Linked DNA regions of Homo sapiens. The protein of the gene in region 2 purifies or fractionates together with the protein of the main gene of each other region. This does not show direct contact. Each region holds a gene or a part of one and is shown on either strand. Other genes may lie near its edges. The genes, in order: ACADL, ZNF597, ANKDD1A, NSMCE1 and SMC5.

What was found.
Region 1: the proteins of ZNF597 (region 2) and ACADL purify together in Homo sapiens (affinity purification with mass spectrometry; one large-scale study listed by BioGRID and IntAct). This does not show direct contact.
Region 3: the proteins of ZNF597 (region 2) and ANKDD1A purify together in Homo sapiens (affinity purification with mass spectrometry; one large-scale study listed by BioGRID and IntAct). This does not show direct contact.
Region 4: the proteins of ZNF597 (region 2) and NSMCE1 purify together in Homo sapiens (affinity purification with mass spectrometry; 4 studies listed by BioGRID and IntAct, with this or other methods). This does not show direct contact.
Region 5: the proteins of ZNF597 (region 2) and SMC5 purify together in Homo sapiens (affinity purification with mass spectrometry; 4 studies listed by BioGRID and IntAct, with this or other methods). This does not show direct contact.

What each region holds. Positions count from the first base shown.
Region 1 is NC_000002.12:210,199,911-210,205,999, forward strand, and holds part of ACADL (long-chain specific acyl-CoA dehydrogenase, mitochondrial precursor), read right to left. Parts: intron 5,887-6,089; coding exon 5,722-5,886; intron 4,773-5,721; coding exon 4,671-4,772; intron 3,535-4,670; coding exon 3,421-3,534; intron 1-3,420. UniProt on the Homo sapiens protein: Long-chain specific acyl-CoA dehydrogenase is one of the acyl-CoA dehydrogenases that catalyze the first step of mitochondrial fatty acid beta-oxidation, an aerobic process breaking down fatty acids into acetyl-CoA and allowing the production of energy from fats.
Region 2 is NC_000016.10:3,431,790-3,437,878, forward strand, and holds the end of ZNF597 (zinc finger protein 597), read right to left. Parts: intron 5,750-6,089; coding exon 4,635-5,749; 3' UTR 625-4,634; downstream 1-624. UniProt on the Homo sapiens protein: May be involved in transcriptional regulation.
Region 3 is NC_000015.10:64,953,377-64,959,465, forward strand, and holds the end of ANKDD1A (ankyrin repeat and death domain-containing protein 1A), read left to right. Parts: intron 1-3,726; coding exon 3,727-3,812; 3' UTR 3,813-5,315; downstream 5,316-6,089.
Region 4 is NC_000016.10:27,250,813-27,256,901, forward strand, and holds part of NSMCE1 (non-structural maintenance of chromosomes element 1 homolog), read right to left. Parts: intron 1-6,089. UniProt on the Homo sapiens protein: RING-type zinc finger-containing E3 ubiquitin ligase that assembles with melanoma antigen protein (MAGE) to catalyze the direct transfer of ubiquitin from E2 ubiquitin-conjugating enzyme to a specific substrate.
Region 5 is NC_000009.12:70,256,072-70,262,710, reverse strand, and holds the start of SMC5 (structural maintenance of chromosomes protein 5), read right to left. Parts: upstream 3,734-6,639; 5' UTR 3,633-3,733; coding exon 3,448-3,632; intron 1-3,447. UniProt on the Homo sapiens protein: Core component of the SMC5-SMC6 complex, a complex involved in repair of DNA double-strand breaks by homologous recombination.

The DNA.
Region 1 (6,089 bases), on a different chromosome or scaffold from region 2:
ATTTTTGTATTTTTTGTAGAGATGAGGTTTTGCCACGTTGTCCAGGTTGGTCTCAAAGTCCTGGGCTCAAGCAATCTGCCTGCCTAGGCCTCCCAACGTGCTGGGATTACAGGTGTGAGCCACTATGCCTGGCCTTGGTATAAGTGTTTTAGTAAACATTTTTGATGTTTAAGTGGTGGTGGTTGGATTTCAGAAGCAAATGATACTCATTCCACTTTGGGTACAGTTGAGAAAATCAGAGTGATATCAAGTGGTAACACTTCCTTCATATTGCCAGGAGCGTAGTATGTGTTTCTAGAGTTACACCCATCAAATTACAGTTGAACACATTACCCTTAGGAGGCAATCAATATATATTTGTTCAGTGAACCAAAAAGGAAAAAATCATATATGTCAGTTTTTCTCAATGGGAAATTATTGATATTTTGAGTGACACAATTAGTTGTAATCCAAATGTGAATTACAGGACATTTAACAACACTGTCCTCCAGGGCACTATACAAGTTATACCTCCAGTCAACTGTGCACACCCACCTCCACCTCATTCCTGACATTTCTAAACACCTGAGTGAAAGGGCATTCACTGAGAACCTCTGATACGTGTAAATCAGTGATCCATAAATGAAAGGGAATATAAAGTATAACATCCTTGCTCTTAAGGAAATCAGAATTTAATCAAGTCAAGTCATACTGTTTTGTTAAATGTTTTCTTGATTGAGTGTACCTCATTTTTAGAGATTCAGAACAACTGTTTTAGGTTTGTTATGTCAATAAGAAAAGTTAGGATGTAAAGACTTTTTTTCAGGATGGAAAAAGTTAATTTGATGACAATACCGGTAGCAAACAGTTCCCAAAACGACAAAGAGAGGGTCTAGATCAAGAGCAAGAGGAAGTAGATGGTAAAAAGGTCTCCCATATTGAAACAAAATGGAGCAAGGCATTATGTAAGGAATAAAATAAGGATAACAGCTAATTTTAATGTGGGCTTACTTTGCCAGGCAATATTCCAAGCGCTTTATGTATATTACCCCATCTAATTGATAGAGACAGGAGACAGCCGAGGGTCTCTGGTGAAACCCTGCCTTCAAGCCTAAACAGCCTAAAGGCTGAAAAACCCGACTGCTGGTCCCAGATGAAGCCTGCCCTTTCCCAACTGATCCTTTCTGAATAATGCCCACCTGTGCACTGGGAGGACGGGGTGGAGCCTCGGGAAGTTCACACTGTTTGCAGAGGAGAGGAGCCTAGCCTCTCCTGTTCCTGTGTGATGACCTAGGATTCAATCTGTGAGGCAGGAGAACTGCTCGCAGGACTTTCTTTCACTTTGCTGAGAGTTCCTTTCTCCTTTTCATTTAATAAACCCTGCCCTACTCAATCTACAATGTGTCTGCGTGCCCAAATTATCCTGGTCCTGTGACAAGAACCCAGTTTTTTCTACAACATAATCCTCACAACAACGCTATGAGGCAGTCTCTGATATTCACAAGTAGGAAAATATTTTATAAATATTTACAAACGTTATAAATTTTAAAGATTTATAGTCAAAATTTTACAATTTTGCAAATCAAATACATTTTATATATTTACAAATAGGAAACTATTTTTGAGAGAGAGAACACGACTAGACTACGGAGATTCAAGTAGCTGTGTTAGGACATAAACCACACTTGAACATAATTTCTAGAATGCTGGTTCTGAAAAGCCACCAAGTTGTTTCATTTCTACCTTTCCCTTCACAAAGCCTTTCAGCCAGTCATTCTACTTAAAAATTTTTAAGTCAAATCCCAACTCCAGGTTTTTTGCTGGTGAGATGTTTTGCCAATTTGATGACCACATGAAGGAATTATAAACTATTCCTTCATTTAAAAAGAAACTATAGGGTCTAAAATTTAATTAGCATATTTAGTGACTGCGGCCACTATATACTGAGTTCTTTTGCAAAAACCCTCAAGTTCCTGGGAAAACTCAATCCTAGGTAAACACAATCATCTGTCTTTTCTCTATGTTTGTACCTGGGAAGCTAAACTCTTATCATAAAGCTGATTGATACACAAAAAGCAGAAAGTAGTTTAGTTTCTCATTCTGAAGAAGATATTTCATACCTCCCTCACCCTTCTGCAACACCTCCATGCCTCCTTCACTCACCTGTCTTTCAAGGACTTTCTCTATTGTTATTTATTTATTTATTTGTTTATTTTTGAGATGGAGTCTTGTTCTGTAGCCCAGGCTGGATGGAGTGCAGTGGTGCGATCTTGGCTCACTGCAACCTCTACCTCCTGGGTTCAAGTGATTCTCCTGCCTCAGCCTCCCGAGTAGCTGGGATTAGAGGTGTGCACCACCATGCCTGGCTAATTTTTGTATTTTTAGTAGAGACAGGGTTTCACCATGTTGGCCACGCTAGTCTCGAACTCCTGACCTCAAGTGATCTGCCTGCCTCAACTTCCCAAAGTGCTGAGATTACAGGCGTGAGTCAGTGTGCCTGGCCACGTTATTTAAAGAAATAGAAGTCTTCTATAAAGAACTTTTGTAGTTTTCTACCAACAGAGTGATGTATCTGTCTGAACTCATAGATGTCCTTTGCTCCTTTCTTCCTGTGCAAATGAAGGAATCCCTCTCCTGTTGATGGGAAGGCCTATCTTTCCATGTGTCAGCATCCACAAACTCACCCTTTCTCAAAGACCTTACGCAGTTGATTATTTCCTTCCTATCTACAACCTTTCCCTCTTTATTAAATCCTTTCTTTATATACAGGTATTAAAATATGCACCCGCATTCCCATCCTAAAAATAACGACAAAAAATTAATAACTCCCAAATATCTCCCTTGAATCTCAAATCTCCTTCCCCTCCCCTCTTCGCTTACCACCCTTTCTCTCAACTACCATTCACAGCCAAACTCAGGAAAGAGTTGCCTACCATCAGTATTGTTTTACGTCCTCATTTCTATCTACTCATCGGGTGTGTCACCCTCCACCTCCATTAATGGCTCTTACTAAATAATCTCCATATCATTGTATTCAATGAACACTCTTTGCCCTTCGTCTTATTTTTCCCCTAAGCAGCAATTGATCCCACTCCCTACTCCATGAAGCCCTCTTTCCTTCCAGCTTCTGTGACAAAGCTCTCCTGATTTGCTTTCTCCTTTCTGTTTATTCATTCTCAGTCATCTTACAGGCTCCTCCTTTTCAGACAATATGAATTCCAAATATGAATTCTACCTTTAAATCTTGTAGTCTTCCTCAAGGACTGTGTCCTAAGACCACTCCTGTCTTACTCTCTACTATCTCTCCTTAGTGATCTCATCCACTTCCATGGTTTCTAATATCACCTTACATGAAAATAACTCCAAACTTCTATTTACCCCAGGCCATTTCAGATTAGTAAACTGATACCATCTAATACTAAACCACAGTGACAAGCTTACCTGTAGGTGAGCAACTGTTTTGCCAAAAGCTTTTCTTTGTTTAACATAGTTCCTGGTTTCTTCAAACATGAATTCACTAGCTGAAATTGCCACATCAGCAATTAACAGCCTTTCCTATAACACAAAAATTAGGTCTTAAACATTACTCTAATTATGCAAGTGATTTTCACACAATTTCAATTACGATAAATCCTATAAATTATCTTTATAATAAACTCATAAAGATTAATTTATATCTTAACTCCTTATAAGAAAACAGATTTATGAGATTCTTTTGACATATCTCTAATCACTTTCTAAAGCAAATCCTTTATTTTTATGAATGACTACCTTTATTTTTTTATAATCTTTTTAAATTTTTAAGAGACAAAGTCTCACTCTGTTGCCAAAAATGGAGTACAGTTGCACAATCATAGTTCATTACATCCTGGAATTCCAGGGCTCAAGTGATCCTCCCACCTCAGCCTTCCGAGTAGCTGGGACAACAGTCACATAACACCATGCCCATGAATGACTGTCTTCATTATATATATGCAATTTAATTTTTCTTCTCTTTACTCACATGTGAGTTAAAAACAATCCCCAGTTGCTTATTTCAATTTATTAATCTCTGCACACTGTATGACTCAATATATCTGTGGAAATAAACATCTTAAAGCACATAAGTTAAATTCTACCTATTAATGTAAAAGTAGCCTTAGTCAGTTTGATTCCATCATGCTGGTGTTTTTCATGGCAGTCACTAGGCAGGAGTACCCCCTTACACTGGCATCTGAGGCTCAATAATCACTTGTCAACCATACTTTAAAACCATAGCTGTTTAGGGACTGACCCTATGTGGCTAAAACTTTTCAGTCTGAATTTTATACTTTTCCCTTTGATTCACAGTTATTATTTAAAAACTGGCAAACTATCAAATGTTTTGCAAGACATTTCCTTACAAAGAGCTAAAAGTTTTTGAATTGTAGTTAAGAAGCTAAAATCATTCTAAGAAGGAATCACAGAACTGAAATATCTGTTTTTCCTACTTACTTTATAAGCTTTGATTGGATATTACTGAGTTCAGTTATTTACTTAACTACCCTATAAAACTCATACTTTTATTACAACTTTAATACTCAAATGATTAGCTATTTCACAAGTTTTGCATGTATAAATTTGAATGCATAATATAGAAATAACATGTTTCTATATTATTCTATTCCAATTCATTATTCAGTCAAAAGATGGAATCTTTAAACACTTCTGACCTGTGGAAGCTCTTTCATGATGTAATAGAAGCCTTTATTCTCTTCTCCAAGTAGGGCACTAGCTGGCAACCGTATATCTTCAAAGAATAGTTCTGCGGTATCCTAAGAGACCATACAAAAAATGTAGAGAATGGTCTCATTTAAATCTTCCAATAACCCAGTGAATATTGAAGTGAATATTATTTTTTCCAAAAAAACAAAACACAAATTGGAAGCCAAGTTGGAGTAGTTAATGAACATAACTAGTAAGTGGTAAACCAGGGATTTGAACCCACAGCCATCTGATTCTAAACCTTGTGGCTTTCCTACTGCAATACACTATCATTCCAGCTCTAATACTGTCCAGTTCTCAAGGTACTTGGAACTAAGGATTTCTAATACATATTAAGCAAAACATGCATTTTTGGTAATGTATAGAAAGAACATTTTCTGGGTTTTTTTTGTTTGTTTGTTTTATTTTTTTTGAGACAGAGTCTCATTCTGTTGCCCAGGCTGGAGTGCAGTGGCGTGATCTTGGCTCACTGCAACCTCTGCCTCCTGGGTTCAAGTGATTCTCCTGCCTCAGCCTCCCGAGTAGCTGAGACTACAGGTGCCTGCCACCACACCCAGCTAATTTTTTATTATTAGTAGAGATGGGGTTTCACCATATTGACCAGGCTGGTCTTGAACTCCTGACCTCAGGTGATCCGCTGGCCTCAGCCTCCCAAAGTGCTGGGATTACAGGTGTGAGCCACTGTGCCTGGCCACACTTTATTTTTATTTCATATTTTTCTTTAATGCATTTTACAAATAGATGGCTTGTTACCATGCAGTTAATTTTGCCATTTCTAAAACAGATATTCAAAATACCTTGATTCATTTCTATTGCTGACCATCAGAAAGATAGAGTGGTATAAATGAGAATAAATCTCATTACCACATCAGAAAAGCATATTTTAGGAATTCAGCATAGGAAATAAAATTGTGCCACATGTAATCCTCTATGTAAGTCTCCTATCTGATTAACAGTAAACTCAATTAGTATCTGAATATGATTTACATTATCACTCACCTGGGCTTTTAATCCCATTTTATGTAGCTTTCGTCCCTTGATAAATCCTTTCATTCCATTTTCCACCAGAAAAAGGCTAATACCATGGGCAGGGGAGGGAGCTTCATGATTTGTGACCGCAACTACAATCACAACATCACTTAATGACCCATTACTGATGAACACCTGCAAAACCCCAAGTACATTATTAATGCACCATGATAATTCAATTCTATGTGCAAGTTATGATTGGGAGAAAGTATATTACAGAAAACTAAAACAGACAAGACATGCTTGATACCTCTCTCTGTACCCTACCCAAATATCTGCAAAGTTGATTATTCACACATGATGTTATCAAGGATCAGGGGAAAAATTACTTAATGCTT
Region 2 (6,089 bases):
ACACTCTTACCCGTACTGCTAGATTTACACGGAGATCACCTAGCGATATGCAGTGGATATGGCCAGGCACATGGCCAAACCCCACCACTGGATCTCCACCGTTCACCACAGTCCACTTGCCCCAGGAATGCGCAGGCGCTACCGGAAGCGGGCACCGGAAGTGGCTCGGCTCGTGGCTTCCGGTTCCTCACCAGTGTGCCGCTGTAGCGCAAGTCATCTCGTTGACACTTCCGCTGACCCGTGCAGTTGGTGGCCAAGCTGGAGACCCAGGATCTCCCTGAGGCCGCGCGAGGTCTTCTGGGAGTCCTACTCACCACATCCGCTACTCGGAATCCAAGCTTTAAGTGGCAACCCGTGCCAGGCAGTAGCTGCTCCGTGAAGACAGAGGTCCTTGCCCCTGTACTTCTGTGTACAGCAAAGACGAAAGGAAATTGAGGTCTAGCGCTAGCTTCCCAGAATGACCCAGAATTTTCTGCTGAGTTCCAGGGAGCAAGCGATTTTACTTCCCTTATTAAGTAGCACGAAGTCCTTCACTCTCTGTCTCTAAACCAGAATCCTAACAGTCTTCAAAATTAACCTGATTGCCACCTAAAACCACGTATTTTTTTTAAAAAGTTCACTTCATTGCCATCATCATAAAATAGCATTTAATAGAAGCCAAATTGCACATTAGACGTAATCAATAACTTCAGAGCTTGCAAACTAGAGTGAAGACTGATGAGAATACGTCAAAAAGAGTAAGACCCAAAACATTGAATAAACAGTATAAGTGTATACAATAAATAGAATTCTGAGGTATCCAAAGGAACTGGAGATTACAGCACATTCTTACGTTTACACAGAAGAATATTTATATTGTATTCCCCCCCTACAGACTTAATGCAAAGAGGACTGTCAATTTTAAAAGACAAAACACCTGTACTACTTAGATGGGCCTTGGAAAGATGGGTAATGGTTATCTTTGAATCAGATCAATAGCTCTTCTAAATTACAAAACTAAACCAGATGAATACATACACTTCTAATGTAATGAACATCATTTTGTTAAACAGATGGTCAAAGCAAATACACTTTCCTACTAAAATCCCACAGGGATAACAAGTTTAATGAACATTCAAAATAGACTATTCATATAAACTATAACCTGCTATGTCTCCCTTTGTACACATAGGCAGTAAATTGCAGATTACTTTGATCAAACTCTGCAGTTTCAGATTGTATGACATCTTATGCTGCAGTCACTAGAACATTGCCACTTAATTATATGGAAACTCAGGAGGCAAAGACTCAAAATGGCATTTGCTGTGAAATGTCATTTGAGTTTTAACTCCCTGAATTATTGGGTTAGTCATTTTCTATGTTAAATGAGGAGGTGTCAATAGACTACCACCTGTAGCAACAAAGCTCTAAATAAAACTATTCTGAGTCGACCTCATTCAAAACAACTACATTCCACAATTTCTTAAATTATAAAATGTAAACTGCTGACATCTGAATTCCATTGGAAAAATGCTGTTTTCATCAATGACGACTGTTTAAAAGACTGTTTAACTATTCCAGCAATCATGTTAAGGAACTGTTGGATATACATTTTCATCACTGCATCAACGACAAAAACGGAGAAATTTGTCTGAGTCAATTTATTCAGCACAAAGTTTTCACTCTCATAGTGTGTTGATTTCCATGCTGCAAAATGCAGTTAACCAATCATTCATAGCAATAAACTCTTGCATTTAGTTTTTCATTCCCATATTAACTTTTATCCAGTATTTGTGAATAGCACCTAACATGGAAGGCTAGTATCTGAGTTAATGACAATTTTATGGAATTTATCTCCATCAGTTGACACTGTAAACAGAAGGGTGAAATGCCATCATCATAAAAAGCCTGAAGCTCACCAGCAGATATATCTTTTCCTTCAATTCCCTGGGGGTAAAGCAGCTTGAATTACATCTAGCAAATGTATTTAAGTACAACTGCACAATAAGCACAACTGAAAATATGCCTCTTTCACAGTAACTGACACTTCCGGGGTTTTCATTTTTTTCTGCATACTAATCATTAACAGTATTATACCAAAAAGCCATTTTAGTTCTACCCACACGTATGTTAATGTTTCTGAAAAGGGCTATTTTTTCTAATCTTTTAGGAAGTTTGTCGTAATCTTCCAAAATCTGGAGAAAACTGCAAAAAAAAAAATTAGAGGTTAATTGTGAAGGAAGACTCGTGTGGAAAGGCAAACTTCCATATTAAGGTGCAGAACAGGATGTATGGCACAAATTCTCACTTTCTGCTATATTTTCTAGGAGCCAAAACAAAAATGACAGCATACATCTTTTATATCACCCCCATTCTGTCCAAGTGCCTTCTAAGATATTCCCCTCTACTTCTTTCTGCAGCAACTCTGCTAATCCAGACCTTTCCCAATTTCATCCCCCATCCTGTGACTCATTAGATCTTTGACTGAACTCTTAGGGCCCCTGATATGTGCTGATGAGGCTCCTGCCAGTTTCTCCCACTGAGGGCAGAAGCAGGAGAGCAAGGAGGTGGTGTTCTTGTTATTTAACAAAGGTCATGGTATCTCAGAGTTGCCTAATAAGTAATCTAACTGGAGACTATCTTTCTACACATTTCAAAGCACCTCAGAGAAACCTGGAAGCTGGTGTCCTGTCTCCTAAGAGTGGAGACATCAGAAACAAACAGCCAAAGTCTGACCTTGACATACAGAGCAGCACATTGTCTCAACTGTGGATCTGCAAACAAGAAACAAGACAAGAATGACAAAGAGAGAGAAACTCTCTCTGGGTTAGGGATGTTTTTGTTAGTTTCAGTTTTTCTCTCACCTGAACAGTATCTTCCTGCCTCTACTCAGTAATAAGAGCTTAGCTGAGTAGCCAGCATTTTTTGTATATTTAGTCCTCAATCTGCTGTTCTGTAGGACCACCTTCTGCTACCTTCCATATAATTAGTCCTCAAGAGTCCTTTATCTTTTCTCCCAGCAAAAATTCCCAGCAACAATTCAATTTTAGCAAATATTGTACTTTTATACTGTCTATTTAAATAGAATGAGAGCATTCTTCCATCCTAATCAAAACCCATGTAAATATTGTTTTGCTGATAGGCATACAATCGACTTTAATGAGAAATTGTATATGAATCTATATTTACAACATTCTGTGGTTCTTTAACATTAATAACCATACCATTTAATAATATTTTGCTCCAGTATTTATCTATAATAGCAATATCTAAAGATCTATATATTATCAAGTATTTTGGTTAAAATCTAACAATTTTCTATATGCATTTTCTTTGGAGATGGAGAGGAAATGTTATGGGTGTTTTTTAAAAAACCAAAACCCAGTTAAGACCTTCAGTATTGTACTCTGCCAAGTGTGAAATCTCTCATCTGATTAGAGGGACAAGAATTCAAACCTGAAGTCCTGGAGAGTCTTCTGCTGCTTTGTAACTGTATATGTTAGTCAGGCTTTGGGTACAGCACAAAGGGAATGAAGGGGTTCCAGGATGCAAGCACACAGAATCGCCTCCATGAGGACCACCCTCACCTATCTCAGCTCCCCTTTCCCTGGCTGCCTGCAGTGCTACTACGTGGTGCAAATGCCAACAAATGCCGCAGTCTTGCAGACTGCATGGCCTTTGGAGTCAGAGAAACCCAAGCTTAATGTCAGTTTCACCACAATGTGATTTGTGTGCTGGGCAAAGAACTGACTTTACCCTCTGAGGACTTCAGTTTCCTCGTTTATGAAACAAAGATTTTTTTTCTCTGTCACAGATTCTGAAGATTAAATTACATAATATATCTAAAGTAGCTAGCATGCTCACTGAGAAACAATTACAATTATTCATAGTAAGACAGGTAATGTGCTTCAGTAGCAATTTGGAGGCAAATCTTAGAAAAGAGCAAGTACTTCTCCCCCTCCCCAAGTCAAGTCCAGCCTCCAGAAAAGGGCTGCAGTTAGACTTCCAAAACTCCTTGCAAACAATTGGGTCCTAAATGCCAGTATGTGCCCCTGGCATCAGAACCATGACAGAGAACTCCGGATACTAATGGCCATCAAAATATAAACTAGTCTACCCATTTGGGAACTTTTACAGGGCAGAAAAAAACTTCTGAACGCCTGTGGGAATTCACATGTAGAACAGCAATCTTATACAAGTATTACATTCAAATAGTTATAGCAAAAAAAAGTATAAAACATATAAAAGCATTTACTTTCCTAGATATGTCTGCAGAACTGGCAAAATATAAATAAATTCTCCTCCTTCTAAAAGTCAGAAACTACGTAAACAAAATTAAAATAACTTTAGCAAGAGCCTTCATTTTAATGAAAATTGAATTTAAACAAAAGTTGTGTATCTTCTTCTGGCTCACAGTTGTACAGTAACTGAGTTCAAATCCTGGGTTCATTCACTAGTTTAGTGACACGGATTTTGCATCCCTACTTATAAAATGGAAATGATACTGCCTAAATCACGGTTGTGCTGAGAATTAAGTATTACATGGGAATGTGTGTAAAGTGCTTAGCACATTGCCTGGGACATATACAGTAACTGCTTCCCACCATACAGATACTGAAAAGCCCAATCACTAATAACAATTTGTTATATTTACTTTACGTGGTGTTTTTTATGTGAGTTCGCTTATGAGTAATGAGATGCAAATTCGACTTGAAAGTTTTCCCACACACGGTACATTTAAAAGGTTCCGCTAGCATGTGGCTCTTCTGGTGGCATGCAAGTTCTGAGTCCAAAGCAAAACTTTCCTCGCATGTTTTGCACTTATGGGGCCTTTCCTCTGTATGAATGTTCTGATGGGAAATAAGCTCAGAGAAACAAGGAAAGGTCATGTCACAGTCAGGACACTGTAAGGGCTTGAATTTTGAGAATGAGAAGAAATTGTCCCCATCATCGCTGCAGCGTTCAGAGTCCTCGTCGTGGCTCTTCTCGGAAAGGGCAGGATATAAGGACTGCCTGAAGCTCTTCATGCACTTAGTGTGCTGGTACTGGGGGCCTGATACGAATGTTTCCTCAGGCAAAGCAAGATTTGGTTTCTCATTAAAATGTTTATCACAGTTAGTAGATTCGTAGGTGTTTTCAGCACTGTGGCTTTTCTGATGCTGTGCCAATCCTGGGAGCCACATAAAACCTCTACCACATATGCTACATGTATAGGGCTTCTCCTTTACGTGGCTATTCATGTGTCGGGATAGATGAGAGTGCTGGCGAAAGCTGGCACTGCACTTGGCACACTTATAAGGTTTCTCACCAGTATGGATTCTCCTGTGTGTCCTCAGGTTGGCTCTATGATTGAAGATCTTTCCACAGTCACCACATTTATGTTTTTTCTCTCCTGAATGAATTTTCTGATGCAAAACTAGGTATGAATGATCGCTGAAGTTTTGGTCACACTCAGGACATTTGTACACATTTTTGGCTCCTTCCCAGGGAGAATCAAGAATTTCAGAAAGTGTGTTGGTTCCTAAATATTCAGAGAGTTCTACTAATGGGGTGTGGTTTTCAATGGTAACTAAAAGGCTGATGACCCTTCTCTTGTAAGTGGGAGTTCCACTTAATATTTTCGCTTCAGGGTTTCCAACTCCATCCTCAGAGGATTTTTCTGGGTAAGGGACAAGGGGTGCAGCAATGGGGTACTTTTCTAAGGCAAGCTCGTCAAGTTCCATAGACTCTAGGCTTAACTGCTGATTAATCTCAGGCTTGCCTTCCTCTCCTGTTGATAAAAACAAAAGAAAGCAAAACATAGACAATATCTTCAAGGGATACTGGGGAAAAAGTAAGCTAAGGTAGTTACAAACAGGACCAGGAAACCTTAGAAGGGTTATTCTATAACCCAGACACTAACCACACAAAATCAGGACCAAGCAGACTCTCCTGGCCTCCCAGAAGATCCAGTTTTGGGTGAATATCCAAAGGTAAGGAGAGAATAGCTATAACTAAGTCAGAGTCCAGTGGGATAGGTACTAAGGACAATCTCAGTAGCAGCTATCTAGAGGTGAACTTTTCCATCTAATCTATTTAGGCCTCAAGAGCCTTTCATTTTTGAAGCTATC
Region 3 (6,089 bases), on a different chromosome or scaffold from region 2:
TCCTTTCTTCTTCTTAGTTCTCCTTTTCTTCTCCTCCTCCTCCCTTCTTCTTCCTCCTCCTTCCTTTTCTTCTTTCTTCTCTCCTTCTTCTTCTTCCTCTTCCTTCTCCTTCTTCTTTAGTTCTTCCTCCTCTTCCTTCTCCTTCTTCCTTCTTCTCCTCTCCTTCTTCCTTCTCCTTCTTTCTTCCTCCTTCTTCTTAGTTCTTCTTCTTCCTTCTCCTTTTCTTCTTTCTTCTCTCCTTCTTCTTCTTCTTCCTTCTTCTTCCTCTTCCTTCTCCTTCTTTTCTTTCTTCTCCTTCTTTTCTTCTCCTTCTCCCTTCTTCTTTCTTCTTCTCCTTGTTCTTCTCCTTCTTCTCCTCCTTCTTCTTTCCTCTTTTCTTCGTTCTTCTTCCTCTTCCCTCTTTTCTTTCTTCTGCTTTCTTCTTCCTTTTTTTCTTCTTCCTTATTCTTTTCTTCTTTCCTCTTCTTTTCTTCTTTCCTCTTCTTCCTCTTTCTTCTTCATTCTTTCTTCTTCCTCTTTTCTTTCTTCCCTCTTCTTTCTTCTCTTTTTCTTTTTTCTTTTCTTCCTCTTCTTCTATTGTTTCTTTTTTTCTTCTTTCTTCCTCTATCTTCTTCCTTTCTTTCCTTTCTTCTTCCTTCTTTCCTCTTCTTTTCTTTCTTCTTCCTCTTCTTCTTTTCTCCTTCTTCTTTCTTCTTCCTCTTTTCTTCTTCTTTCTCCTCCCTCTTTTCTTCTTCCTTTCTTTTCTCCTTTCTTCTTCCTCTTTCTTCTTGTTCCTTATTATTCTTTCTTCTTTCTTTTCTTCTTCTTCTCCTTCTTTCTTGTTCCTTATTCTTTTCTTCTTCTTCTTCTTCCTCTCCTTCGTCTTCTTAGTTCTTTCTTCTTCTCCTTCTTTTCCTTTCTTCTTCCTTCTTAGTTCTCCTTTTCTTCTCCTTCTCTTCCTTCTTAGTTCTTCCTTCTTCTTCCTCCTCTCCTTCTTCTCTTCTTCTCCTTCTTCTTCCTTTTCTTTTCTTCTTCTTTCTTCTTCCTTCCTCTTCTTCCTCCTCTCCTCCTTCGTTCGTCGTCTTCTCCTTCTTCTTCTTCCCTCTTCTCCTTCTTCCTCTTTTTCTTCTTCCTTCTCCTTCTTCTTCCTTCTTCTCCTCTTTCTTCTCCTTCTTCCTCCTTCTCCTTCTTCTTTTCTTCTTCCTTCTCCTTGTTCTCCTTCTTCCTTATTCTTCCTTCTTCTCCTTCTTCCTCCTCCTTCCTCTTTTCTTCTTCCTTTTCTTCTTCCTTCTTCTTCTCCTTCTTTCTTCTTGTCTCTTCTTCTTCTCTCCTTCTCCTTGTTCTTCTCCTTCTTCTTCTCCTTCTCCTCCTCCTTCTTCTTCCTTCTCCTTCTTCTTTCTTTTTGTTCTTCTTTCTTCTTCTCCTTCTTCCTTCTCCTTAGTTGTTCTTCTTCCTTGTTCTTCTCCTTCTTTTTGTTGTTCTTTCTTCTTCCTTCTTCTTCTTTCTTCTCCTTTTCTTCTTCCTTCTCCTCCTCCTTCTTCCTTCTTCTCTTGTCTCTTCTCTCTCCTTCTTCTCCTTCTTCTTGTCTCTTCTTCTCTCTCCTTCTTCTTCTCCTTGTTCTTCTCCTGCTTCTCCTCTTCCTCTTTCCTTCTTCTTCCACTTCTTCTTCTTCCTCTTCTTCTTCTTTCTTTCTTTCTTCTTCTTTTCTCTTTTTTTTGATATGGAGTCTTACTCTGTTGCCAGGCTGGAGTGCAGTGGCGCAATCTTGGCTCACTGCAACCTCCACCTCCCAGGTTCACGCCATTCTCCTGCCTCAGCCTCCTGAGTAGCTGGGACTACAGGTGCCTGCCACCACACCCAGCTAATGTTTTGTATTTTCAGTAGAGACGGGGTTTCACTGTGTTAGCCAGGATGGTCTTGATCTCCTGACCTCGTGATCTTCCCCAGGGATGGGGTGTTCCATCTTCTGCCCTGTCCGGCAGAGTAGCTGCTTGCCACCTGAGGCTGTCATGCACCTGAAATGTTGGCTAGAGGGACTGAGAAGCTGAAATTTCTTATTTCTCATTATTTGAAATTGCAGGCACCCATAGCAAGTGGCATCCATGGTGCTTGGCTTTGAGGTGCCAGGCAAGCACAGCTTGTTCTGGGGCTTGGCTGTACCAGCAGGGGGATGTGTTTCTGGGGAATTGTGGCTCTGGAAGCTTCACGGTTTCCCAGAATGTGGAAAATATATCTGTGCAGGATAGAAATCCTGCCCAGAGGCTGTTTCTGTCTCATTTGAGCTCTCCTTCATGTGGCAGAGCTGGCTGTGGCGTTTAGGAGCCTACATTTTAGAAAAGCTTACCTCAAAGTTCTGCATTGAGCCTGAGACTGGAAAGGAGATAAAATAAAACAGCTGACAGGAGCTTTGGTAGTCACACATGCCTGATGGGGTGCACAGGGCCACAGTCTCTGAAAGGCAATTTGGCATTGTCTGTCCACAATATACTTTTATCCATTGGTCCAGCAATCCTACTCTAGGAATTTTTCCTACATATAAACCTGTATGCATACAAAATGATAGACATACAAGGTTATTACTCTGAAAAAGCAAAAGATTGGAAACAAACCAAGTGACTGGCTACAGGGGACTGGTGAAATAGAGTATGTTCCATCCACACAGTGGAATTCTGTTCAGCAGTGAAAAAAGGATGAGAGTGCTTTCCAAGTGTTGTTATGGAAAGAGCTCCAGGATAAATTAAGTGGAAAAAAACCCCAAGATACAGGTACATTAAACCGAAGGAAATTGGTTCAGAGGATAGCTGCACCATTTTTAGAGAAAAAGCTTCCTTTCTCTCTTCACCTTTTGCAGGTGATGTATTTTTTTCTTTGGATTCCTTTTTTTTTTCTTTTTTTTTGAAACAGTTTAGCTTGGCCGGGCGCAGTGGCTCATGCCTGTAATCCCAGCACTTTGGGAGGGCAAGGCGGGCAGATCACGAGGTCAGGAGATCGAGACCATCCTGGCTAACACAGTGAAACCCTGTCTCTACTAAAAATACAAAAAATTAGCCAGGCATGGTGGCGGGCACCTGTAGTCAGTCGCAGCTACCTGGGAGGCTGAGGTAGGAGAATGGCATGAACCCGGGAGACAGAGCTTGCAGTGAGCCGAGACTGTGCCACTGCACTCCAGCCTGGGCGACAGAGCAAGACTCTGTCTCAAAACAAACAAACAAAAAAAGAGACAGAGTTTCACGCTTGTTGCCCTGTCTGGAATGCAGTGGTGTGATCTTGGCTCACTGCAACCTCCGTCTCTTGGGTTCAAGCAATTCTCCTGCCTCAGTCTCCGGAGTAGCTGGGATTACAAGCACACACCATCATGCCCGGCTAATTTTTGTATTTTTAGTAGACAGGTTTCACCATGTTGGTGAGGCTGGTCTTGAACTCCTGACCTAAGGTGACCCATCCACCTCAGCCTCCCAAAGTGCTGGGACTACAGGCATGAGCCACGGAGCCCAGCCATTTTTGGATTCTTAAAACTTAAGAAAAATTCTAAAACATATTTGTGATCTATTACGTTATGATATATGATAGGGAAAAAATAGACAACTTTACCTACCACTAAGTTATATTTAATCAGCATTCTTTTGTTTCCTAACATATATGTTGCGAGCTAAATGTATGCTCTTACTCTAAATCTTTCTGAGCTACACTTTAAGGGTGATAATTGTTTTGTTTTGTTTTTTGAGACAGTCTTGCTCTCTCACCCAGGCTGGAGTACAATGGCGAGATCTCAGCTCACGGCAACCTCCGCCTCCCGGGTTCAAATGATTCTTGTGCCTCAGCCTCCCGAGTAGCTGGGATTACAGGTGCATGCCATCACAGCTGGCTAATTTTTGTATTTTTAGTAGAGATGGGGTTTGGCCATGATGGCCAGGCTGGAAAATTGAAACATAATTTCACAATTATTCCTTTTTCCACCTTAAATAATAAGAGTAGAATACTTTCTGTGTTTTTATCTTATACACATGAATAAATGCTATGGCTTATCACAGTTACAATGTGTTTTCTGAAAGTAAAGATTATTTTACCTTGAAATTACAAAAATTATTTTCAGTTTTCCAAAATTCTATCTTTAAACCTAAATAATTCAATTTCATGGATGCACAAATGTTTATTGAGAGTCTCATATTCATGCTTTTCTTCACAGCACTATAAAGTTGGACTTGGAAAATTTGGACAGCCATTTGCCATTGTAATTTTTATTCTTTTTTCTCCTGATTATTTGACAAAACTTGTATCCACATTGTAGCTGTTCATGTGTCTGCTTCTATTGCATATTGTAAAATTATTAACTACTTCCCAAAATAGTATTTCTCTCAGCAGATATTTCTTTGGTACTACCATGTATTGTGTAACTTTTGGGAAAGTAAGGTGGCTTCCCTGCTCTCAGTGAAGCATTTTATTAAAAGAATAATTATAATTAAAAAAACACGATACAGATCAGTGCATATAGTATATTACTAATAGTATGCTGTTAATTGTGTAAGAAAGAAAGGAAATTAGAAAACATATTTGCATAAATAAAAGCTAGACAAAGGCTAAGAAACTAATCAGGTGGTTTCCCTGGGGTAGTAGGATAATGGGGAACAGTGGGGCTGGGACCGGGTGGGAGAAAGAGTTCTCAGTGGTTCCTTTCTATACAGTTTTAACTTTTGAAATGTGTGAGAGTGTTACTTACTGAAAACTGAAAGGATATGACATGCTGGAACAGGCAAAACTACAAAGACAGTAAAAAGATCAGTGATTTCCAGGAGCTGCAAGGGCAGTGAGAGGAAGGGAGGGATGAGGAGGTGGAGCGCAGGGGATGTTAGGGCAGTGAAAGGTTCTGTATGACACTGTGATGGTGGGTACATGACATTGGGCATTGGTCAAAACCCATAGCATGTACAGCACAAAGCGTTTGCTCTAATGTGAGCTATGGACTTTAGTTAATAGTAACGTGTCAATATTGGTTCATCAGTTGTATCAAATGTACCACACTGATGCCAGATGTTAATAATCGGGGAAACTGTGTGTGCTGAAGAGTACGTGGGAGCTCTCTGTGCTATCTGCTCAATTTTTCTCTAAACCTAAAACTGTTCTAAAATAGAAAGTCTGTGAAAAAAAACAAAAGTAAAGTTATAAAAGGAAAAGAAAACAGAGGCTTTAAATTAAATCATCTATTCCTTGGGAAAGGTATTTTGTACCATATGGGACTGAAATCATTTATCTGGATGAATTTTATAAAATGAATTTTGTAATTTTTTTCTGAGAAAAAAAAGTTCTTAAATACAATAAAATTGAAATGTTGAAATATATCTCTCAAATCCAGTACTCATATCTTTTCTTTGGGAAATACAGGGTGAAATTCCAGGTCAGACAAGCTGTCACAGATTGGTGCTATGTAAGCACAATGGCTCAACTCACGGACAGTGAATACTTCCTGAGTGGATTTTGTGCCAGGTGGCCTGCCAGGAGTGGGTACAGAGATGAGAGCCCACAGTTCCCTCCCCTTCCCCAAGCTTAGGGTCTAGTAGGGGAGAAAGGCTTGCACACCAATAACTGTAATAAGGTGCAGTCCACGCTGTAATGGATGGGTGCAAACAACTATGGGACTCCTTCCTGGGGGAAGGAAGAAAGGAAGGGGAGGAAGCAGCTCACAGAGGAGACAGAAGTGGGGAAAAGGGCAGTCCAAGCCAACAGCACAGCCTAAGCAATAGCCCAGAGGTGTGGAGAGGGACCCCCCACCTTGGGGAGTAGCGTGGCTGGAGCACAGGATGCGTGGAAGGAGGGGGAGCTGTGACCTGAGGGGCAGGAGGGGGAGGGGTGCAGATGCATTGGAAATTGTTCCCCACCCCATCACCAAAAATTAGATGTCTCATAAAGTAGAAACTGAACAGAATAGACTCCGCCTTTGGAAATGCACATCTGCTTGTCCTTTCAGAGTCTACTTTACCTTGCTAATTGTGACTCTCCTTGTTTCTAAAATGTATATTTAAATCACTTTTCCAATGGATATTTACTTACAGTTACTCCCTCCCTTTTCTTTGAGACGGAGTCTTCCTCTGTTGCCAGGCTGGCGTGCAGTGGTG
Region 4 (6,089 bases), about 24 Mb from region 2:
AAAATAAATGAAATTTATTTAATTTTAACTGTTTTTTTTTTTTTTTTGAGATGGAGTTTTGCTCTTGTTGCCCAGGCTGGGGTGCAATGCACGATACCAGCTCACTGCAACCTCTGCCTCCCGGATTCAAGCAATTCTCCTGCCTCGGCCTCCCGAGCAGCTGGGATTACAGGCATGCACCACCGTGCCCAGCTAATTTTGTATTTTTAGTAGAGACGGGGTTTCTCCATGTTGGTCAGGCTAGTCTCGAACTCCCGACCTCAGGTGATCTGCCCACCTCAGCCTCCCAAAGTGCTGGGATTACAGGCGTGAGCTACCGCGCCCAGCCTTAATTTTAATTATTTAAAATATATATATATATATATATATATATATATAAATATATATATATATATAAAACTCTGTAGAGTTCAGACTCCTCACTTGTGTTCTAAGTCTATTTATCCTATTTATCCCCTGCTACTTAGGATCCCTTAGCTTCCTATAAAAAACTTTCTGCTACATCACACCAGGGCAAACATGAGATTTTGTCAAATACTTTTTCTGTACCTATTGAGATAAACACAAGATTTTTCTTTTTTAGCTTAATATGGTGAATTACACTGATTTTCAAATATTAATACTAAATCAACCCTGCAAAATCAGGATAAACCCTACTTGGTTATGTCGTACCATCCTTTGTAAACACTGTTAGATTAGATTTGCCACAGTTGGGTTTAGCACGTTAACGTCTACGCTCATGAGGAGTCTTGTTTGGGGTTTTCTTTCCTCGCAATGTCTTTGTCTGGTTATGGTATCAGAATCATGCAGGTCTCATAGAATTAGTTGTAACATATTCTCTTCAATTTTACAGAAGAGTTTGGGTAGAAATGGTGTGAGTTCTTCCTCAAATGTTTGGGCCGGGCACTATTCCCAGTTCTGTGAATAGCTGGCATTGTTTTCTCTAATCCTTCAACTAGTTCTCTCCCTGGCCTTAAGAAGTTTTCTTGCTCATCAGTTCTCAGCGGGATCCTTGAGTGGAGGGGCACTTTGGACATCTCAAGTTTTCTCTCTGTGCACCTCTGGTCCACCTTATACTCCATTGTAAGTACTCCGTCCTGCAACCTCTACCTGCCTTAGTCTCCCTGAACTCTCATCTCCATCTCCTCAACGCAGGGAGGCTGCCTAGCTCTGCCTGGGTTTCCCCTGTGCCATGGCCTAGAAACTTTCTAAAGGCACTGAGCTGGGGCAGCTGTACTGCTCACTCCCACTATCGCTTGTGGCAGAAGAAAGTTACTTGGTCTTTCCCCCAGGTTCCTGGTACAGAACTTCTAAAACTCTTAGAATTCCCTGAGTCATATAGGTGATAGAAGCATCTTTTGCTCTAATGAGGCAACTCTTGGCAGGCCCCTAGGATGGGGGCTGGTCACCAGAATGACCAAGCCTCAATAAAAAACATGGAACTTTCAGCCACTCCCCAATATCTGAGGAGAAGAGAGGGACTGGAGATGGAAGCACTCGTCAACGGCCAGTGACTGATCAATCATGCCTGTGTAAAGAAACCTCCATAGAAACCCAGGAATGGCCAGGCACGGTGGCTAAATAAATATTTCAAATCATTTCTAATGGTGGATTCACAATTTTGTGGGATTATTTTTCTTAGAGTGTGCCAAATTCAATAATCAACAGGCCCTATAAAACCTGAAACTGGGCTGGGTGCAGTGGCTCACGCCTGAATCCCAACATTTTGGAAGGCTGACGCAGGATGATCACTTGAGCCTAGGTGTTCGAGACCAGCCTAGGCCACAGAAGAAGACCCCCGTCTCTACAAATAATTTAAAACTTAGCCGGGCGCGGTGGCTCATGCCTGTAATCCCAGCACTTGGGGAGGCGGAGGCAGGCGGATCACCTGAGGTCAGAAGTTCGAGACCAGCCTGGCCAACATGGTGAAACCCCATCTCTACTAAAACCACAAAAATTAGCCGGGTGTGGTGGCTCACGCCTGTAGTCCCAGCTACTCAGGCGGCTGAGGCAGGAGAATCGCTTGAACCTGGGAGGCAGAGGTTGCAGTGAGCCGAGATCTTGCCATTGCACTCCAGCCTGGGCGACAAGAGCAAAACTGTCTCAAAAAAAATAAAAATAAAAATAAAAAAGAAACCCTTGAACGACAGGATTTGAAGAGCTTCGGGTTATTAAACACACAGAGGCGTTGAGACGGTGGTGCAAGTAGAGAGGGCACGGAAACTCCATGCCACCCCCACTTCCCACAGCTGGCCCTGTGATCTCTCCTATGTGGCTGTTCCTGAGTTGTAGCCTTTATAAAAAAACCACGTAAGTCAAAATGTAAGTAAAGTGTTTTCCTGAGTTCTATGAATCATTCTAGAAAATTATCAAATCCAAAGAGGGAGTTATGGGAACCACTGATGTACAGCCATTGGTCAGAAACACAGGTAGCCCAGGACTTACAACTGGTGTCTTAAGTTGGGTCAGTCTTGTGACACTGAGCCCTTTAACTTGTAGGATTTGATGCTAACTCCAGGCAGATAGTGTCAGAATTAAACTGAATTATGGAATGCCCAGTTGTTATCTAGAGAACTGGAGTAGTGTTAGAAAAGATACCACATCAAGTGTCAAGAGAAAAAGAAACCCTCATTGCCCATCTCTCGAAAGATCACTGGCCTTGACTGACGAATGTCCAGTATTTTATACTTTGTCCATTTTTGAATTGTTTCAGGCAAGAAGGTGTACTGAGCCCTGTTGCTCCATACTGGCCAAAAGTGGAAAACCTCAAACCCAAGCCTTCTCCACCACCCCCGAGGCCTCCTGTGCCGACTTCTATCAAGGAGGCCTATATTGGAATCATCTGACCCCTTGTCTGTATGACTCATGAGAGCCATGGTAAAATAAAAATTCAATCTCTGAGTCACCAGTCCCTAGCACAGAGGCCTGGCTCACTTGAGATTCTAGGGAAGCTTTGCTGGTTGAATAAACGTATGTGTGGATGCAAGTCCTGGCTCAAAAATCTAAGGTCCTCTAAGAACACAGGTCCCTAGCGCCATTCCGAAAGGCTCGACCCAAGGCCTGCACTGAACTTGAGAACAAAATCTAAACTCTTCACTAGCCAGGAGAATTGGGGACTTTGTTTCCCCTTAACGACAGTAAGAAGAGAACCCAAACCAAAGCCTAGAATAAGAAGTGATTTGATAAACTGGACAAACACCCTGGGAAATGGCAATTAGAATAACTTGCAATTTCAATCACTCCTTTGTTTCATAATTTTCCTAGAAGCTAAATATTTTTCTATTTGGTACAAGGGGATTTTCCTGGCCATCTCTTCAAAAGATAGGAAATTAATAATATTGGGTCTTGCGAGTATTCACTTAAGTTTAGATAATTTCTGTCATTTCCTGTTTAAAATCTCCCTAATAACAAGAACATGCAGTAACAAGTTTTTTGGCATTTTTCTTAAATGAAGATAGGACAAAATAGATTGTTCTACCCTGTTCACCCTGGCCATAACCATATCTAGGTGCAAAGAAATGGTACACAGTGTGAAGAATAAATCAATTCCTAGACACATTCTACAGGACTTTCCTAAATTAGATCATAACAATTTTAAAGGTCAAATAAAGGCAAAAACACTTTCAGTCTTAGTACCAAGGCATCATGTGGCTCCTTGCAGTGAGCTGTGAAACTTCCCCACCAACATGAAAGCTTACAGTCAAGACTCACAGGAGAAAAAAAGAGAAAAGGACTAAATTGTCGTGTAAATAAGAGATTCAGGATTAACACAAGCATTCTTTTATTTTTTTGAGATGGGGGTTCACTGTGTTGCCCAGGCTGGAGTGCAGTGGTGCAACCTCAGCTCACTGCAACCCCCACCTCCCCTGCTCAAGCGATCCTCCTGCCTCAGCTTCCTGGGTAGCTAGGACCATAGGTGTGTGCCAGCACACCTGGCTAATTTTTTGTACTTTTGGTAGAGACTGGGTTTCACCATGTTGCTCAGGCTGAAGACAAGCGTTCTTATGCACATTTCTGGAGGATATTGAGGGGTAGGTTTAAAGTCCAACCATGCTTTTTTTTTTTTTTTTTTTTTTTTTTTTTTTGATACATGGTCTCGCTCTGTCGCCCAAGCTGGAGTGCAGGGGCAGGATCTCAGCTCACTGCAGCATCTGCCTCCCAGGTTCAAGCAATTATCCTGCCTCAGCCTCCCAAGTAGCTGGGACTACAGGCATGCACCACCACACCCGGCTAATTTTTGTATTTTTAGTAGAGATGGAGTTTCACCATGTTGACCAGGCTGGTCTTGAACTCCTGACCTCAGGTGACCCACCCTCCTCAGCCTCCCAAAGTGCTGGGATTACAGGTGTGAGCCACCACACCCAGCCGCTACTATGCTTTTTAAAGAGCAAGAGAAACTAGCTTAACAGGTATAACATCCCCTTTCAATACAAAAGTCTCTCACCAAAGATCCTTCTCTGCTGGTACAACTGCGGCGCATCTACCTTCACCACGGAGATGGTTCTCAAACCTAAAACTGTCTCTCTCACTCTCTGCTTTGAATACTTCAAGAGGGCCACACTGTCCGCAGAAGTAAAAAGCCATTACTATGGTGTATAGGGTTCTTCATGATCTGCAAACCTACACACGAAAAGAATGTATTCTCTTCCCACACATCATATATTCTTGTCTAGGGATTCCCAGGGTAGGTTATCAGTAGGTCAATTAGGTTTGGATACACAGAATTAAACACAGTTCAACAGGCTAACTTGTTCCTGGCATTACTGAGCTCCCAGAATTCCCCATGGAACACCTCCATGGACCAGTGCTCTGGAGAACGCAGATGCTACTCTCCAGACACTTCAAACTGCTTCTTCTCCGTCTAACACGCCACCTTCTTTTATTCCTCCTTCCTTTGCACACCTTGAAAGAATATTCGTTTCTGTTCTGTCTCCCTCTTCTTATTCCCATTCACTGCTCACCTCTCTGGGATCAGGCTTTGAACTCTAACATGCTGCAGAAACTGCAGTGCTCCAAATGTGACACCTACCTTTTCTCGTGTCCCTTCACATTTTGAAAAGTATAAAATGATCTTCATCACTTTTGAATGCATTTGCATGCAAAGGCATAAAAGTGGCTGGGAAGAAGATGTAATGCACTCATGAAGTGTTTGCCTTTGGGGACAGGAGGGACACCCTTTCTGGTGTCCCTTCGCCCTTTCACAGCTCACTGCAAGGAGCTACAGGATGCCTGTGGACTAAGAATGAAAGCATCTTTTTGCCTTTTTTTTGTGTCCCTTCACCTGTGTACTTGCTCCCTGTGTACCTGTACACGCCCTTTCTCATACCTCTTGGCTTGGCTCACTTCTATGTCATTTTTTATCTTTTTCTTTTGAAAATTAAAAATACAGAGAGAAAGGCAGAATAAGGCAGAATAAAAACCAAACGCCTGCATTCCCATTCATCAGAGGTGACAACCAGTAGACTACACTAATTAATGTCATGTTGTTAGGCTAATAATGTCACGTTGGCTTCAAGACTTTTCTTTTTAATAAAAGAACATAACAGGATAAAAGTGAAGGGTCCTGTGATCTCTGCTGACAGCCCACTCCCACTCTGCTTCTCCTCACAAGCACCTCACAAGTGTCCTGCGTCTTCTTCTGGTCCACTTTTATACCTTTACATGCAAATGCATTCATAACCAATGAAAACGATTTTGTACTTCACAAAAAAACAACATAATCACATCATACAATTACTCATCCATCACCTTTGTCACTGCATAAAATCTAATCAGTAAGATCTACCCATATTGGCACACAACTCAACAATATCTGCCAATGCTAATTCGACTGATCTATCAACACTGATCCTACTGTTTCTTCCACCATCTCCAGTTACTTAGAACTTAGCACCATGTCCTGTCTCCAAGGGCTTCTTATTTGCCCCTCCCAGTGGCCCCGTAAGATGCCCCAAATGCCTTCAGCTGACACAGGGCAGGGACACACTCTTCAGGTCCGGCCCAGTCTAAGGCTGTGCCCTTAAGTGTTGTGCTAAGCTCCCCCATTTTTTTGTTTTATAATTTATTTTCTTTTTTTCAAATAAAAAAAT
Region 5 (6,639 bases), on a different chromosome or scaffold from region 2:
CATACTATCTACATGCTGAAAGCAGTCCAGATGACCTCTATATGCAATGGTCACCTCAATAACGCTATTTGAATGTCCCATAACAGTCATCTTAAACTTAACACATTTAAAACGAAATCCACCATCTTTCCCATCCAAAACCACTCTTGTGGTCTCTTAGTGAATGGTATTATCATTCATGCCATTGACCAAATCAGAAACCTAGGCATTAGTTTTGCATCCTCTTTGGTTCTTTCATCTCTTTTGACTCCACCCAAACCACCACTCCATCATCCAATCAATCACCAAGTGATGCTGGTAGAATTGTAAATCTGATGTCACTTGTTAAAAAAGAAAAATTAAGGAAAAACCCATCACAGCCGAGTTTCATCTTTTTCTACTTTTTATCTCCTTTCCCTATTCTCTCCTTAGACCTCTAAATTCTACCTATAATGTACTTCTTTCAGTTTTGTGACTATAATTCCTTATTGCTCTGAAGTATTTGCACATGTTATTCCTTCAGCCTCCAAGTGTCTTCCTCCACTCCCAACTCCATTTGACTTGGTTCACTCACTACTCTCTTCCAGGCCATTTACATTCTCTAACTACCCATCTTATTTCCTTGCTAATTCTCTAAGCGCATCTTTCTCTACCTCATGCCTAAAACTCAAAATCCCCTCATTAAAATAAACAGCATCTCACCAACCTCTGCACTTCCAGCTACCTTCTCTTTCTTCTCTTTGCATCCGGCCTGCAAAGTTTTCTGCTTCCACTGCTTCATTAAAAGGTCAAAGATTTCCCAATTGCTAAATGCAGTGGGCTCTTTTCAGTCCCGCTATCTGACTTCAATGTAGCAGGTGATATTTTTGAAACATTCTTTTTCCTTGGCTTCTTTGATAATTGTCTCCCACTGTTTTCATCTTACCTCCCTGAATAGTTCCTTCTGACTTTGAGTCCTTCTTCAGTTCACCCTTAATGTAGGCATTCTCCCAAGACTCTGTACATGGTCTTCTAGTTCTTCAATTCATAATTCCTATTGGGCAATCATAACCAGTTCTGCAACTTCATCAATCACCTGTATGCATGACTCCCAAAACTCTCATCTGTTCATATTTTCCTCTAAGCTCCAGACTCCTACATTCTGCCTATAGAACATCTCTCTTAGATGCCACAAAGGAAACTTTAAGTCACAGGATCTAAGAGGCATTTATTATTCTCCTCAAACTGCTCCCTCTTCTGAATAGCACCTGATCAATTAGCTAAGGCTCTTACACTTGGGAAAAATGCTGCATTCCTCCCTTTCCCCCATGCCTCACAACTATTCTGTAGCTGGATCCTGTCAAATCTCATTCCTTCACACTCTGATCATCTCTTGCCTTCGTATTGTCTTTTTGCTTCCAATCTTGCACCCTTTCTAAATCATCCTCTACAGTGCTTCCAGAATAACACAGAACACACGTCATTCCCTGTTGAAAACACACCGTGGCTGCCTACAGGATGATGTCGGAACTTCTTAGCATAGTAAACATACAGGCCCCTGAATGGTTGCTTACCCTTTGTCCAAATACTCATTCACATCCTATATTCTTGCCTTACTAAAATACTTGACGCTTTCTAAATATACCAAACTATTTCAGACAGTTCCTTCTGTCTTCAATGCTCTTCACTTCTTGCAAGACTTTCCTATCTTCTTAGGCGGGTGCAGTGGCTCATGTCTGTAATCCCAGCACTTTGGGAGGCCGAGGTGAGTTTCTTGAGCCCAGAAGTTCGAAACTAGCCTGGGCAACATGGTGAAACCCCATCTCTACAAAAAAATTTTAAAACATTAGCCAGGTATGGTACGCGCCTATAGTCCGAGCTACTTGAAAGGCTGAGGTAGGAGGATCACTTGAGAAGGGGAGGTCCAGGCTTCACGGAGCCCTGATCATGCCACTGAGCTCCAGCGTGGGCAACAGAGCAAGACCAAAGACTTTCATATCTTCTTTACAAAGCCCTTTCTCATACTCGTAGACAAAACTAACCACTTCATCCTTTGTGAAGGATCCTGATATATGTTGTTATGGTATCTAACTCATTTGATTACATTTATCTTTCCTGATCTGGATTCAAATAGCAATGCAACTATGTAACAGCTGCGTAAAACTGGGCAAAATAACCTACTGAGCTTCTTTCAGCAATGGAAATTATCAAGATAGAGTTGTTATGAAGAAAGAATGAGTGCACTATGTACCTGGCACACAATAGGTGCTTGAAAAAAAAAGGTAGTATTGTTATTACAATTCTGTTATCCTTATGCCACTATGTGCAAGCTTTAAAAAGACTTCCGGCCGGACATGGTGGCTCACGCCTGTAATCCCAGCACTACGGGAGGCCGAGGCGGGCAGATCACCTGAGGTCAAAAGTTCCAGATCAGCCTGGTCAACACGGTGAAACCGCGAGTCTACTAAAATACAAAAAAAAATAGCTGGGCGTGGTGGCGGCTGGCTGTAATCCCAGCTACGCGGGAGGCTGAGGCAGGAGAATTGATTGAAACTGGGAGGCGGAGGTTGCAGTGAGCCGAGATTGCGCCACTACCTTCCAGCCCGGACGACAGTATGACACTCCGTCTCAAAAACAAAAACTAGCCGGGCGTGGTGGCGCGCGCCTGTAGTCCCAGCTACTCGGGAGGCTGACCCAGAAGAATCGCTTGAAACCGAGAGGCGGAAGTTGCAGTGGGCCGAGATCGCGGCACAGCACTCCATCCAGCGTGGGCTACAGGAGCGCAACTCCGTCTCAAAAAAAAAGAGGAAAAAAAAAAAAAAAAAGACCTGGAACAAATGAACTGGAAGGTGCTAGGCAAATACATGATATATTTAAAACTTACTAAATTCTAAAGCGGTAACTAGTTGTCTGAAGGGGAGAGGGAGGAACCAGGGAAGAAAACTGGGTTTAGTGGGGTCAAGGGTTTGTAGGGAGGTCCAACAATTGCCAGTAAGTGTTTAATTTTTTTGTACCTGTAACCTCCATTCCCGAACAACCTTTACCGTCTTATCTACTCCTCTCTGGCAAATGCCTACCCTAAGAATCCGCCACAGCATCACTATCACGCCGAATTAACTGTTGCCTCCTCTTAAGTTCCCGGGGACAATACTTCTGTGAATTCCAGACCAGGGCCGCTATGGATCGCGACTCCCAGCGGGCAGAGACCTACTCCCTCCTACAACCACTACCTGCTACATGACACCTTTGGAAAACCTTGGCTGACTAAATTTAAAAACCACATCACCCAAGGCACACATCTCCTACATCATACACGTCAATCTCCACAGCCTACGTAGGAAAATCCTCAAGGGAACCCCGGCACGAATTCAAGGCCAGACCCACAAGCCAGGTACACACCCACACGCCCACGCCCGCGCGCTGCCGGAGCCCCGGGGCCTGCTGGCCAGCACACCTCCACACCCGCGGCGCGGCCTCCGGGCAACTTACAGGAAGTTCTCCATCGAGATGCGGACGATAGAGCCTTCCACGAAAGGCCCGGACGACTGCAACAGCGGCAGCTGCGGGGCCGAATTCTTCCTCTTGCTCGGGACCTCCGACGAAGGGTCTCTCGGGAGAGCTCTCTTGGAAGGCTGGGGGCTTGGAGTTGACGTCTTCTTGCTCGGAGTCGCCATCCTGGCTTCCTCAGCGTCCCACAGCGACTTCCGTTCCCACCGTCCGGCAGCCCAGGCGCCCAAGCGCCCATCCACCCAGGCGCCCCGCTCCCGCGCGAACTGCCGCGAACTGTTACCGCGCGCTCGCTCCCGCGATCTCGCGCCGCGCCTGCGCAGTTCAGGTCCGGCGACGTCAGCAGGCCCGCCCCGCCCCTCCCGCGCTCCGCCGCGCTGTGCGAGGCCCAGACTGAGGGCGAAACAGCAGGCAGGACTGGGTGGAGACGTTCGGGGACGTGGCAACTGGAGTTTCTTCTCCGTATATTTCGGCATTCAGTTCCTTTTTTTTTTTGTTTTAACTCAGGAAAAAATCTCAATTGCGTTTAGTATTTTGAAAGCCACTTTATTGCTTCCCGAGCCTCAGTCATGTGTGGTGGGAGGCTGCTGTGGGTGGCACCTGGGGCGTCCACGGCCGCCAAGGCGGGAGGACGTCAGGCCCTGCTTGCTCCCACCCCTTCCAGGTGAGAGCTCCCGGGCACGCCCGTCGTTGGCTCTTCGTCCTCTTGGTGTTCTTCCCTGTTGCTTCAAATCAGGTTCCTGTCTCAAAAATCCGAAAAAGAAATCCTCCCAAATGACTCTGTGCCCGACGCTCCGTTAAGGCATCGTGCTAGGCGTTCTCAAACTCGTGAAATGACTACACTGCACAGGTTAACCTCATTGCTACTCTTCCCCTTGCCTCCTAATTCTCTGGTTAAACTTCCGCCCCCGAGGTTTCTAGAAATCCCTGAGCTGGAATGCGCTGCCTTCATTAAGAGGGTGTTCTGCTTCCGTCTGCTCACATTCATCTAGTAAGCCCTCTCGTTAAAGAGGAGGCAGCACACCGAGGCCTGTCTAGAACTTCTTTCATTTAACCAACAGTGAATATCTAATCTACAAGAAACTGGAGCCGTGGCAGTTTAGGAGCCTGCCAAGGTTGCATCCCTGGGAGCTTATTTTCTATTGTGGGAGACAGGAAAAGAACAAGTGAATCAACTGTGAAATTAAATAATTCAAACTTAAAGCTGTTGGAACTTTAAATTATTCTGAGCCTTGCGAAGAATGTGGCGATGGGGCCTGAGTCCCATGGCATACAGCTGCAATGTCTGCCTTGTTTTTTCCTATAATCAGGAAGACCAAACAGAGACAGAGGTAAGACCCCCTCAGATCACTACCCCCTTCATAAATTAATATAGTTATCTTCCTTGGAATGTAGCTATCTATAACTAATCTAATCGCTGTAATTTATGCACTGCTCTTGTATTGAAAATGTACTCCTGCTGAACCTTCTCTGTTTCTGCCTGTGTAAATGAAACCTTAACTTCACTTTGGAACATTGACCCTATTTGTTTGGAGTTGGTGTTTCCAGGTGGCTGTCCTCAAGCTTTGCGTTAGAATAAACTCTATACTTAATGATATTTTCTGAATTTCACTACTTAAGGCTGACACAACAAATGATTAGCATAATGTCAGACTGTGACAGGTGTTAGGAAGAAAACAAAATGAACCTGATGGGTGGGAGGTACGGAAGGCCTCTTAGAGAGGTGGTGGTGTTTAAGATAAACTCTGAAGGACGAGAAGAAACTGTGACGATCTGAGAAAAGAGCACCCCAGGCAAAAGAATTTTGCTGGAACATACCAGTAAGGACAAAAGCTCTGAGGTGGGAAGGCCAGTGTTGCTGCAGAGCAGTGAACAAGGTTGCAGAGCAGAACCTTGTCCATCGTGGAAAAGCCTGAATTTTATTTTTAAAGCAATGGGAAGCCATTGCAAAGTTTTAAGCAGGAGAGGGCCATGTTCTGACTAAAGCTTTTAATTTTTTTATTTGATTTTTTTTATTTGATTTTTTTGAGACAGAGTCTCACCCAGTCGCCCAGGCTGGAGTGCAGTAGTGCCACCTCAGTTCACTGCAAACTCTGCCTCCCTCGTTCAAGCGGTTCTTCTGCCTCAGCCTCCCGAGTAGCTGGGATTACAGGTGCATGCCACCACACCTGGCTAATTTTTGTATTTTTAGTAGAGACGAGGTTTCACCATTTTGGCCAGGCTGGTCTGTAACTCCTGACCTCAAGTGATCCGCCCACCTCGGTGTCCCGAAGTGCTGGCACTACAGGCATGAGCCACTGTGCCTGGCCTTAAAGTTTTTAAATAATAATTCTGGTTGCTGTGTGGAAAATGGATTAGAGGGCACCAAGTGTGGAAGTGGAAGGCCACTTAGAAAGCTATTGCAGTAGATCCCTGATTCCTGACTCCTAGACCAAAGCTCCTTTCCCAGGTCTCTGCTGCTTCCTCTCACACAAGGACTCCGCTCCAGAGAAAATAGAGTAAGTAAAAAGCATGTGAACTTGTCGTAGTTACTGGAAATTTTCTTAAATGCAAATGAAAATGAGAGAGACGGGAAGGAAAAATCATTGAAAAAATTCAGACTGCAGCAGCAGCCTACCTGAAAAGTCACAGCAACAGGCAAAAAATAAAACAACCTTGGGAAAACCTCAGGTTGCACCTGGACAGATAGACAGCTTTAAGCACAGATAAACAAGCACAGGAGTGGGAGAGTCTCGACTTCATACTCATACAATGGGCCCCAGTAAAAACTGTGAGACTTAATAAGTACATTCCTTTCCGTTTAGGCCCACTAAGATACGGAAGCGAGAAGCTTATACAGGGAGGGTTGGGGGATGCCTGCAGCTGCAAGAAAATGTCTGGGAACAGACACAGAAACTTAAGCGACACAAAGCAGCACAGAGCAGCATAAACTAAAAGCCTGCTTATGTGATCAAGGAATTGGGTAAAGGCTGTTAGGAACTCTGCTCTATGCCGATAGCACACCTGGTCCCAACTAAATCTTCAGGCCCTGGGAAGATAAGACACCCCTCCTCACTAGTCCATTTATAAAAACCCTGACGTTTTTACTACAACTTGGCAGTCCAGTCAGACTCCCCTCTCTAATGCAGAGAGCTTCTTTTCTTTCTTTCACTTATTAAACTTTTGCTCCAACCC